Linked DNA regions of Homo sapiens. The protein of the gene in region 1 interacts with the protein of each later gene in a pairwise test. Each region holds a gene or a part of one and is shown on either strand. Other genes may lie near its edges. The genes, in order: SEC14L1 and SLC5A7.

Region 1 (7,297 bases):
TTACATCGACAAAGAGATTATTCCAGATTTCCTGAGTGGGGAGTGCATGGTATGTCCTGAGGCGAGGAACTGCACATTTGGCCCCTTATGCAGGTGGGAGAGGTCGGTGTCGATTTGCACAAATGATTTTCAGAACTTCCAGTTGTTTGGATGTTTTGTTTTTGTTTTGTTTCTTTTGGCCGCCATTTCTCTGATCCAGGGTTAAGCTAAAGAGAACCATTGAAGTAATTGTTGATACTGTACATTTCTTCATTGTTAAATACGAATGAGAATTCGTAGAATCAAATACGATTGCAGCTTGCTTTGATTCACACGGCTTTGTGTGAATCAGATCTTTAAACAATTTTAGAGGAGCTGTCATATTTTCTAAAATACTGTTAAAAAATTGAATCAGTTCTCAAAATTTCCCACCCGCCCCTCCCCGTCCTTTTTTTTATGGAGACAGGGTCCGGCTCTGTCACCCAGGCTGGAGTGCAGTGGTGCGATCACAGCTCAGCAGCCTGACTTGGTGGGCTCAGGTGATCCTCCCACCTCAGCCACCCAAGTAGCTGGGACTGTAGGCGTGCACCACCATACCCAGCGAATTTTTTGTAGAGGCAGAGTCTCACTATTTTGCCCCAGACTGGATGACATTTTTGGTTTTTTTTTTTCTTCTTGAGATGGAGTCTTGCTCTGTTGCACAGGCTGGAGTGCAGTGGTGCAATCTCAGCTCACTGCAGCCTCCGCCTCCCAGATTCAAGCGATTCTTCAGTCTCAGCCTCTGGAGTAACTGGGATTACAGGCATGCGCCACTACCCACAGCTAATTGTTTTATTTTTAGTAGAGATGGGGTTTCACCATGTCAGCCAGGCTGGTCTCAAACTCCTGACCTCAAGTAATCCGCCCACCTCGGCCTTCCAAAGTGCCGGGATTACAGGCATGAGCCACCATGCCTGGCCTGGATAACATTTTTAAAGTAAAAAAACGAAGGGAAGTGGTTCTCAACATACGTTTGGGGTTTTTAATATACTGAGTTGCTGGGTAATGAAGCAGAGGCCTCCACTTCTATATCCTGTACTCAGAGAAGCTCAGAACCTTGGGGTCCTTATAGGCTTCTAGCCCATGGTGCACAGTTGTGTCTTGGGAGCATTACGGAAGCCAGAGCCTCTAGAAGTCCCAGTGACTTGTTCCATGGCACACGGCGGTGGCTGAACTCAGCAGGGAGTGAAGCTCCTTTTCAGAAGGGCTCTCTAGTCATCCTTCATATGAAAAGTTACCCGTTTGGAATGTGTACCCACTGGGTTTGACTCAGGTATTTAGCTAATGAATTGGACATTCAGGGGACTTTGGACTTTCTGAATGGTTAGAGAAATTTAGAAAACAAATGAATTTAGCTTTCACTTCATCAGTTCCACTTTAAGGAAATTACAGGCATCATCACAGTACAATGCAAAGAGCAAGTAAGTTACAGTAAAGGTTATAGGACCAGAATTTAGCAAGCGCCTATGAGGTTAAACCGCAGGCTCAGGTTCGTAGAAACCTCTGAACTCCTTTCATGATATGAGCTAGCCATCCCGTGTTGTTGCTGCTTCCAATTATGACACGAAGAATTGAGCTGGAGCCCAAGGAGACCTGCCTCACCGCGTTGTGCCTGTTTGTCACATGCCGACCTCCGTAGTGTGTTTGCGGTGCTGAGCGTCTTTGTGGTTAATTGAACTGTCCAAAAACTTGGGCCTTCTAAGGCTTCTTCACCTCTCTCCTGAGCTGCTGTTGAGGCTGATTGTTGAAAGGAGGTTGTTCCCTCCTGCTCTCTGGTGGCCGGAGGTTACTAACCAGCGGGCAGTCTGGTATTTTTCCACCACGACATCACTGCTTTGACACTTATGCTGTACTGCAGGCTGAAGACTGAAATGTTTATTTTCTATGTAGTTGCTTCCCAAGGCTAATAGAACGAGGACTTCGATTTTATGAACTTTAGTGTGGAGTCATTGTGTCAAGGTCAATTAGGAGATTTATGTTATGTACAAGTTCTAATTCAACTTGTTTCAGGCAAATTCAAAAGAAGTTCTTCATTAGTTTTTGGCTGGTGTTATAGACCAGTCATTTGACTTTAGACAGAAAACATTATTCATTGATTCTGTATCTTCACTATAATTCCCTATCATAAAAATAATGCCTGTGGCTATTGAGAGCAAAACTCTTTTCTTAAAGTAATACTTTTCCTTTACAGGGCAATATAAATACCCCTAATGCTTATATGAGTCAGCTTTAGTAACTGGGTGCAGTGCCTCACGCATTTTAGTAGGAATTCTGTGGTACATCAGCTTCAACTTGTTCCCGTTTATGCAGAGTAAAACACATGTATTTAAGTGGTTTTTAAAAACATATTGCTCAGTAGTGCAGAGTGTTTTACGACCCTGCCAGTGTTTTCCATTTTCTCAGCAACCTCCAGAAGTTGAGTGCAGGGGGATAGTGCTGGCCGGTGTGTCTGGGTTTCGTGGGGTTGGTTTGTGTTTGCACAGGTTTCACTGCTGTGTTTCTTCTTCCAGTGCGAAGTGCCAGAGGGTGGACTGGTCCCCAAATCTCTGTACCGGACTGCAGAGGAGCTGGAGAACGAAGACCTGAAGCTCTGGACTGAGACCATCTACCAGTCTGCAAGCGTCTTCAAAGGAGCCCCACATGAGGTACGTCCTCCGCCTTCCTGCACCTGGGCCGGCCCTTCCTCCGCAGAGGGCCTGGCCCTCGCAGGGCTTCCTGGCAGCCTTTCATTCAGAACAGTCCACTCGTTTTTCTGCTCTTTGTCTTTAGGCTTTTGTTGACACTCGATATTTAGTTTCAGTAAATGTCAACGTCGAAGAATGGGTCTCTCTCAGAATAGAAACTAGCTGTGCTTGATCAGAGTGCCTGGAAAGGAAATTGGATCTCTTGACCTCCATTTTACTAAAGCCACCAAACACAGAGATAGGAATAGCTAATCTTTCCTTGTTGGAGCACTTAACTCCTGAATTTAGTTTATTTCATGGTTATATTGAACAAGTTTCATGTGCTACTTTTTCTTTTTTTTTTTCTAGACAGAGTTTTGCTCTGTTGCCCAGGCTGGAGTACACTGGCATGATCTCAACTCACTGCAACCTCCGCCTTATGGGTTCAAGCAATTCTCCTGCCTCAGCCTCCCAAGTAGCTGGGATTACAGGCACCCGCCACCACGCCTGGCTAATTTTTGTATTTTTAGTAAAGGTGGGGTTTCACCATGTTGGCCAGGCTGGTCTCGAACACCTGACCTCAGGTGATCCACCTGCCTTGGCCTCCCAAAGTGCTGGGATTACAGGTGTGAGCCACTGTACCTGGCCCGTTTGCTACTTTTTCTTGGCTGGGTTTTGGTTATTTATAGATATCTTGGGGATTTTCCGATTTCTGTAAGTCTAATGGAGCAAGGAGGGTGTTCCTGTATTCCTTTTTTGCTGTCACTTTTGGTAGAGAAGCAAGGGCGTTCCGTGTTCCTGTGCATGCCATATGTCTGTCCTGTAGCATCACGAGTGACCTGAAGCAGGAGGGGCCTGCAGCGGAATCTCCCTTCTCAGCTAGGACAAGGTTCGTGGCCCAGAGTTGTTGGAGAGGATGGTGGCACTCTGTGCAGAGCAGGTGTCAGTGAGGATGTGGTGCTGGCTTGGGCAATGGTGCTGGCCGGGAGCTGACTGCGGCCTGCTTCCTGCCGTGGTGGCACCTGGGTCAGCCATCTGCCAGTGGCTTCTGCTGGGGTGTCTTCCTGAGTGGCTCACCTGGTGCTTGCAGGGCAGGTGGATAAGGGAATGCTGTTGCCATGGTTTGAACAAGCAGAGACAGATTTGGTGTGCCTTACTTGTAGATACATACATAGAGGAATCTCAGATTTCATAACGTCTTGAGGATTGTCTGTATTCATTTCTTACCGGGAGGGCAGGCTCCAGGGACCGAGTCCTTGTTCCTTGTTTGTTAGGCACTATCGCTCTTGTCCATGTTTCAAGAACTTGGGGTGCAGTGTGTTTCGTGTGAATCGGGGGCATCTGTAGACATCCACATGGTAAAAACCTCCGTTCTGCTTTGGGTATTAAATAAAGCACAGATCCGAGATGGCAACAAACTGAAAGGAAGGCTGAAGCGGAGGCCCCCACTGTGAATGCAGGAAAGAGGTTCCGTCAGCACAGGGGGCCGAGGCCTCAGGATGGAGCTGCCTGGGGAGCCACTTTGCTGAAGAGGGGGCCGTGCCACGTGGTGCCGCCTGCTGTTCTTAGACAGGACCCTTGTACCTCACTGAATCTGCTGTGGAAGGACATTCTGAAGTGGCGTTTCAGTGGTGAGGTGGCAGTGGTGGGATTAAAGGGGCCCGGCTCGTAGAGCAGCCACGCGCTGAAGGGCACAGCAGACAGCGTGCATGGGCTGAGAGGGGCCGTGGGCCTGGCTCTGCTGCTTCCTTAGGTGGAGTTTTCAGTGACTGCAGAACTCTGCACAGCTGCTTTTCATTCTCACGTCCGCCCCCGCCCAATCTTTGAAACTAACTTTGATTATTCCCTCCTGGGTAGCTCTGTCGGTGCTGTGTAAGTTTGGTTTTCAATTGGTTCTCAGCACCCAGGGGGTGACCACCTCAACCCCATCTCTACTATGCCAGGGGCTCATCCCGCTCACCCAGCCTCGCCACTGTTCTCTCGTGTGAGCCTCACACGGCAGGCCCGGTTCCATGCCCCTGCTTCCCCCTTGCTGGGAACGCTGTCCTCAGGCTCCCCTGCCTGCTCTTTCTTTAGCTTTCACCTTCTCCAGGGCCTTCTGTTCTGTCCAGCCCAGGGCAGTCCTCTGAACCACTCATGTACGAGCTCACAGTGTTTGGTGTTTCTAAGACCTGGCCTCTTAGAGTGTGTGTGAAGATGGTGTATGGGAGATCTTGGACCTCTAGGTGCAGGTCACAAAGAACACAGAGCTTGGTGCATGACATGTAGCAGGATCCAGCGGTTGAATGGATGGTGGTGTGTGACTCTGGGGAAAGAGATCCGTCCATACGCATTCAGCGTTTCCCTCCCCAGCTTCAGCACCTGCACCCTGGATCCCCTGGAGAGCACGATGCGCTCGCAGCATGCCGGCCTGGTGCTCGTGGATCGTGGCTGCCTAACGCTGCCTCTTTTTCAGATTCTCATTCAGATTGTGGATGCCTCGTCAGTCATCACTTGGGATTTCGACGTGTGCAAAGGGGACATTGTGTTTAACATCTATCACTCCAAGAGGTCGCCACAACCACCCAAAAAGGACTCCCTGGGAGCCCACAGCATCACCTCTCCGGGTGGGAACAATGTGCAGCTCATAGACAAAGTCTGGCAGCTGGGCCGCGACTACAGCATGGTGGAGTCGCCTCTGATCTGCAAAGAAGGAGAAAGCGTGCAGGTAAAATCACACACAGGTCAAATCGCGCATCCGTGACTCCACACGGCCAGGTGATTCTGTCTTGAGTAGACTCTTTGCTTCGCTCCTTGAGCAGCCCTGTGTAGCTTTTGAGGCCCTGCTTGTGGAGGAGCAGCTTGCCTGGAGGAGCAGGAAGCCAAGTGGGTCTCGTAGGAAGGAGTTCAGGCCTCGCAGTGGTTTTGGACAGAATCTGCGACTTTTCCCAAAAGCAGCCTGTGACAGGAAGGGAAGGCATCGCACGCACGGGCCCAGCTGGGCTTCATAGGATTTTTCCCCCCCGCCTCATTTCACCGGGTTGTGTTTGTCTTTTTCAAAGGAAAATCACCCTAAATAGAAGTAAGAGGGACAAGTACTTAGAGAACTATTAGCTCTCATTACCAAACCTTCTAATTTGTTTCAAATGCTTTCAGTTCCCTTTTCACATTGTGGCTGGTTATTTTGGGTGCCTGTGCTCACAGTAGCCTCGGGGCGGGGGCATTGCTTCTGGCCTTCATAATAGATGCATCGTTTTGCTGCCTTTACAGTTTTCAGGGGTAAGGCTTGTCAGTGTTTCAGTGGTCTTAGAGGCAGAGTAAAAGAATCCTTTGTCCATTTTAAAAACAATGAACAGCTAAGCTGTGTTAACCAGTCATGAATTTCGGAGAGAATGGAGAAGGAGCTTTCCACGGATTGACGGCTCACTTTAGGGTGACGTGCCTTCAGCCCCGAACATGCTGGATGATTGGCAGCATGTCAGAGAAAGTGAGGCCAGGTCCAGGGAAGCTGTGCTGAGCCCTCCCTCCAGCATGGGTGCCACCAGCCTGCCAGGCTCCTGCCTCCGTAGGTGGGGTGGGCTGGGCAGGCCTCGTGAGGGCCACGGACATGGAGCTTGTCCCTCCGGGCTTCCCAGCACCCGGGAGTGACCACACTCAGTAGAGGGAAGGACATTGTCAAACCTGCTGCTGAAGCAAAATAGCAGGTTCTGAATCCCATTGAGATAGTTTCCGTAGCTACATGAAATCCTAAAGACAGTCCCCTTGGCGCTTGTCAGGCCTGTGGTAGGCCAGGGGTCGGAAGCGAGTCGCCCTCAGCTGCCACTGCCCTACTTGTTCTAGGGTTCCCATGTGACCAGGTGGCCGGGCTTCTACATCCTGCAGTGGAAATTCCACAGCATGCCTGCGTGCGCCGCCAGCAGCCTTCCCCGGGTGGACGACGTGCTTGCGTCCCTGCAGGTCTCTTCGCACAAGTGTAAAGTGATGTACTACACCGAGGTGATCGGCTCGGAGGATTTCAGGTGCGGCCACCCTCGCCACAGCAGGTGCTGCGGACAGCTGGGCATGGTTGGAGGGAGCCTGCAGTCCCACGCCGTGTGCAGGATCAGCAGTGGCGGCGGGTGTCAGGAATGCTTGGAGGGCCAGGAGGGAGTGGCTTTGGGGTCATTTGTTGGCACGGTGACTCCCTGCCTGTCTGCAGAGGGAGAGTGTCGGAGACAGAGCCGACTGACTGCCTTTGCTTTAGCTCACACTGCCGTCTGCGTGCAGGCTGTGGGAAGCCGGTCCCCCTGGTGGGTTACTCATGTCCATCCCCCGTTTGCAAGCACTGATGGGGATGAGAAGTGAGCAGAGAACAGGGTGGGCCACGAAGTCCAGCAGGCAGTGTGGGCCGGCGGGTGGTTGGCAGGGTGGTCCTCACGCCTCGCCCCTCCCTGTGCCATTACAGAGGTTCCATGACGAGCCTGGAGTCCAGCCACAGCGGCTTCTCCCAGCTGAGTGCCGCCACCACCTCCTCCAGCCAGTCCCACTCCAGCTCCATGATCTCCAGGTAGTGCCGCGCTGCCTGCACCTAGTGTGCAGAGGGGACGGCCGCCCCTCCTCGGACAGCCAGCTGCACCCGCCCACCCAGCGGCGACATT
Region 2 (4,268 bases), on another chromosome or scaffold:
TCTGCAACAGCCATGGCCTTGCTGACGAAAACTGTGTATGGGCTCTGGTACCTCAGTTCTGACCTTGTTTACATCGTTATCTTCCCCCAGCTGCTTTGTGTACTCTTTGTTAAGGGAACCAACACCTATGGGGCCGTGGCAGGTTATGTTTCTGGCCTCTTCCTGAGAATAACTGGAGGGGAGCCATATCTGTATCTTCAGCCCTTGATCTTCTACCCTGGCTATTACCCTGATGATAATGGTATATATAATCAGAAATTTCCATTTAAAACACTTGCCATGGTTACATCATTCTTAACCAACATTTGCATCTCCTATCTAGCCAAGTATCTATTTGAAAGTGGAACCTTGCCACCTAAATTAGATGTATTTGATGCTGTTGTTGCAAGACACAGTGAAGAAAACATGGATAAGACAATTCTTGTCAAAAATGAAAATATTAAATTAGATGAACTTGCACTTGTGAAGCCACGACAGAGCATGACCCTCAGCTCAACTTTCACCAATAAAGAGGCCTTCCTTGATGTTGATTCCAGTCCAGAAGGGTCTGGGACTGAAGATAATTTACAGTGACCCCATCTAAATAAAATACTGCTTTTGCAAACAGAACACTGTAATAGGGTAGTTCTGGAGAGATGGTATGCAGCATACAAAAATATATTAAAAATATAAACAATGTTCAGGAGAGTAAAAATTCATATAAAGTGCAATTGCACAAATACAAGCCAAGCTAGAAGGAAGCACCTATGAAAGCAACAACTTTGTTTCTCATCCATAGTAGTATTGATTTTGATGCTAGATAGTTTTGCTAGGTATAAAAAATAAGTAAAGTTCCACTTAGAGAACAAAGGGCCAAATAGAGTTTTTATATTTGTTATGATAAAAGGAAGTAGATGTGAAAAAGCCTAAGAAAAAGGAAATTGGACAGTTTTGATACAAACTTTGTTTGCTAATGCACTGATGAGTCTAGTTTCATTATAGCACGAAGCTATGAGAATAACTTCAGTCACTCCCTTGAATGGTGCAATGAATTAACCAGCTGATTTTTCTTAGTGTGATGATTAACCCCTTCTTTCATGTTCTGAGCTATAACATTTGCTGAATATGCAATTTGTTATTCTTTTATTAATGGCATGTAATATTCTGAGCACGGGCAAAGAAAACACACAAAAGATTATGTATTGGCATTTATTTATGTGCAAGGTGATAGGAAAACTGAATCCATCTTTGTAGAAGAGCACTGGGCTAATTTGTATGTTTCCATAGCTACTATATGCATAAACAACAGTACCTGAAGGATTATTAAGCAACCTTAAAGCAATAAGTTCATTAAACAGAAGGTAATAGGAAGAACAGTACATTTTTGTCTTTATCTCAAGTATATAAAGTTTTGCCCCATGATAAAATAAGTAACATATAAATTAATACATAAGTTAATATTGGAAGTGAAATTAGGCCTTATGTAAGGAGAGGTAGCTACACAGCATCTGTTACGGTTAATGAGAGGCACACTGCTAAATTTACGTATATTTCATTGAATACTTTATGGGAAGCCTCCACAACACCTCCTGATAGTAGTAAAATTAGAAAAAAACAAACTCTACTAATTTTTAGATATTCATTAATAGGAAAGATTTAATGTTACAGCATCTACTCTTTGGCACTTTTTCACATAAGCCAGCCTTAGAGACTAGACAAATAACTACTGCAAAAAGTACATAGTGAATTTTAAAATGTAGAAGAAAGCAAAAAATAAAATAAGTCCTAAAGTGAAGAAGCCATCAATTTTAACATTTGATGTCTAGATAACATTCATGAGATTGGTCATTAAATACTATTTTGCTCCTTTTCTGGTGTTACACATACACACTCATACGTGTGTGTGTGTGTATGTGTGTGTGTGTATGTGTAATGATTTGTGTCCATTTCAAGTGTTTTCACACCAGTCACACATTATAGAAATTACTGGAGCCATGTCTACAAAAGCAAAGTGAAGTGATGAGCTGAAAAGTGATCAGGGAATCTGATCCCATAAAGAAAGTGAGTCTGAATTGTTGAAACTAAAGCACTTCTTTTCCAAAAATACTTCTGCAACTCATGAACAAAATGAAGTTAACTTAGTGTTTAGCATTAAAAATAAAAGTTGTACCTTGACCCTAGAATTCCTTTTATAAGATTTAATTGTAATTGTCTCAAAGCATCAAATAATACATCTTTATCATTAAACATGAATTTAATGTCTAGGATAATTTTTAAAAGAGGAAATTAAATAATTTTACATGTCTCATATTTTCAGTGCTTTCTCAAAATTTGATGGTGAATATTACATTGCATTCAAAATCTTCACTGAATATCATATGTATCTAAATGAAAAGAGAATTACTTATATTCATCTATTTTCTCAGAATCTATTCAGTACCCTATGGAGTACATGGAAGAAGTATATTTTTGGAACCAGTAAGTATGGGAGTCCACGATTCTCAGGTATTGATTGAAAAAAGAGAAAGGGGCAAGAAATTCATTAAAGAAAAACCACAGATACTGAAACATTTGACACATAAAAGTAATTAATTGCTGGAGACTACAATTCCTGGCAAACACCATTATTCCAGATGCACCATGCTACCCAGCATGCTACCTGAATGGCGGTTTTTATCCATCCTGTCACCCTGAGCATCTGTCTCAACCTGCTGAGGCACAGACTTCCACCATGTGCATCAGGAAACACCTCACTCATACTGTCATATAATGCAACAGGGAGGCATAGTCTCTCTACAGGTCTCTCTCTTTACGTTGTACCATTCTGTTGGGCAACAATTGTCCCAACAACCACACTTAAATCCAGTGGGGAAAAAAAGGTTAACAGTAAAAATTTCTTCCACGTAATTCAATTTCTCACAATAGACAGAAACAGGGGGAAAATGTTTGCCCTGTTCAAAGTACTAAAACTAGATAACTTAAATAATTTAAGCCAATAAATAATATTATATTGTATTTAACCCATTATTCCTCACCTACCCTCAAAGTAGGTATACAAAAGACTAGTTTGTTATTAATCCACAAATATGCTAAATGTTAGCAAGATGATTTTTAAGTACAAAAAAGTTTAAGATTGCAAGGAAGGAAACAATGGTCACAAGGTCTTTACTTATGCACATTTGTGCATAAATTTCCACCCAATTTCCAAGACAGTTGTATCACAAAGCTGTGAAATGTGCAAGAGTATACTTTGTACCCATCATGTGCTCTGTTTTGACATAATGAGTAATGCAGACATTTACATGTTCTTCCAGCTTCAATCAGTAGACCTGATTTTCAAAATCTGCCCTCAGATGAAAATAAAATAAACGAAACATTTAGACAATGGCTATATTAATCTGGGAAGGCAACACCTGTGGATAAAACATTAGAAGAAAACATATATTTTATTTTCATACTTTTGATATGATTGTAACATATTTCTTGAGTAATTTAAATGCTTTGTTTTCCCACACATATTCAAATCAGCAAGCTTGTAGCTGGACTGCAATATCAACAACAAGTTGTTTCAAACAGCATCAAAATACAACTTCATTGCTACACTTACAAGTAATGAATTTTATGTGACTATGAAACGAATATAAGCTTAAAATAAGTGAATCTAATAAAATGGCTATTCCTCTTTTTACTTGGAAATAATAAATTAACATTATATTTTAAACATAAATTATGATTTCTTTTTCTGTTTTAGCCTTCATGTAAATTTACACTGGTATGATGTGTAATTTATTGTACGTTTGCTACTTCATAGACAGATGCATATAATGGTTCTAGAACATATATTTTTGTCTGTCAAATTATTATATAAAATTATGCTTAAAATAAGTATATTTGCAACTGTGTAAATGCTTTAAGTGTAATGGCAATGTATTAAATTGTGCTGGTCAATTTAGGGTATCATTGTCTAAATTTGGCTTTTGGGGGCCCTCTCTTAAACTAAGTATATATGGTGCTTCAAGACAATTATGCAATGAAATCAAAATAAACCATCTCATTACTGGAGGATAGGCAAATGCCAAGTGGAAATGCTGCACCTCACGTAAGTCTTGGGGCAATATATATCATAGCTCAAAAACAAATGTAAATTGTTTTTCTTGGAAAAGACATTCTACCATTGTACACAGGTCTTTTGTAAATCAAAGAAATCAATAGAATAATATCCATTAAGAGTCTCATGCTTACTGACTGAGTCAGCCAGGTGATTCCAATTATATTCGTTCCAATCACAT

What was found.
Region 2: the proteins of SEC14L1 (region 1) and SLC5A7 interact in a two-hybrid assay, tested with the Homo sapiens proteins (one study listed by BioGRID).

The regions. Positions count from the first base shown.
Region 1 is NC_000017.11:77,206,814-77,214,110, forward strand, and holds part of SEC14L1 (SEC14-like protein 1), read left to right. Parts: coding exon 1-49; intron 50-2,528; coding exon 2,529-2,663; intron 2,664-5,136; coding exon 5,137-5,388; intron 5,389-6,500; coding exon 6,501-6,679; intron 6,680-7,104; coding exon 7,105-7,210; 3' UTR 7,211-7,297.
Region 2 is NC_000002.12:108,010,289-108,014,556, forward strand, and holds the end of SLC5A7 (high affinity choline transporter 1), read left to right. Parts: coding exon 1-573; 3' UTR 574-3,706; downstream 3,707-4,268. UniProt on the Homo sapiens protein: High-affinity Na(+)-coupled choline transmembrane symporter. Functions as an electrogenic, voltage-dependent transporter with variable charge/choline stoichiometry.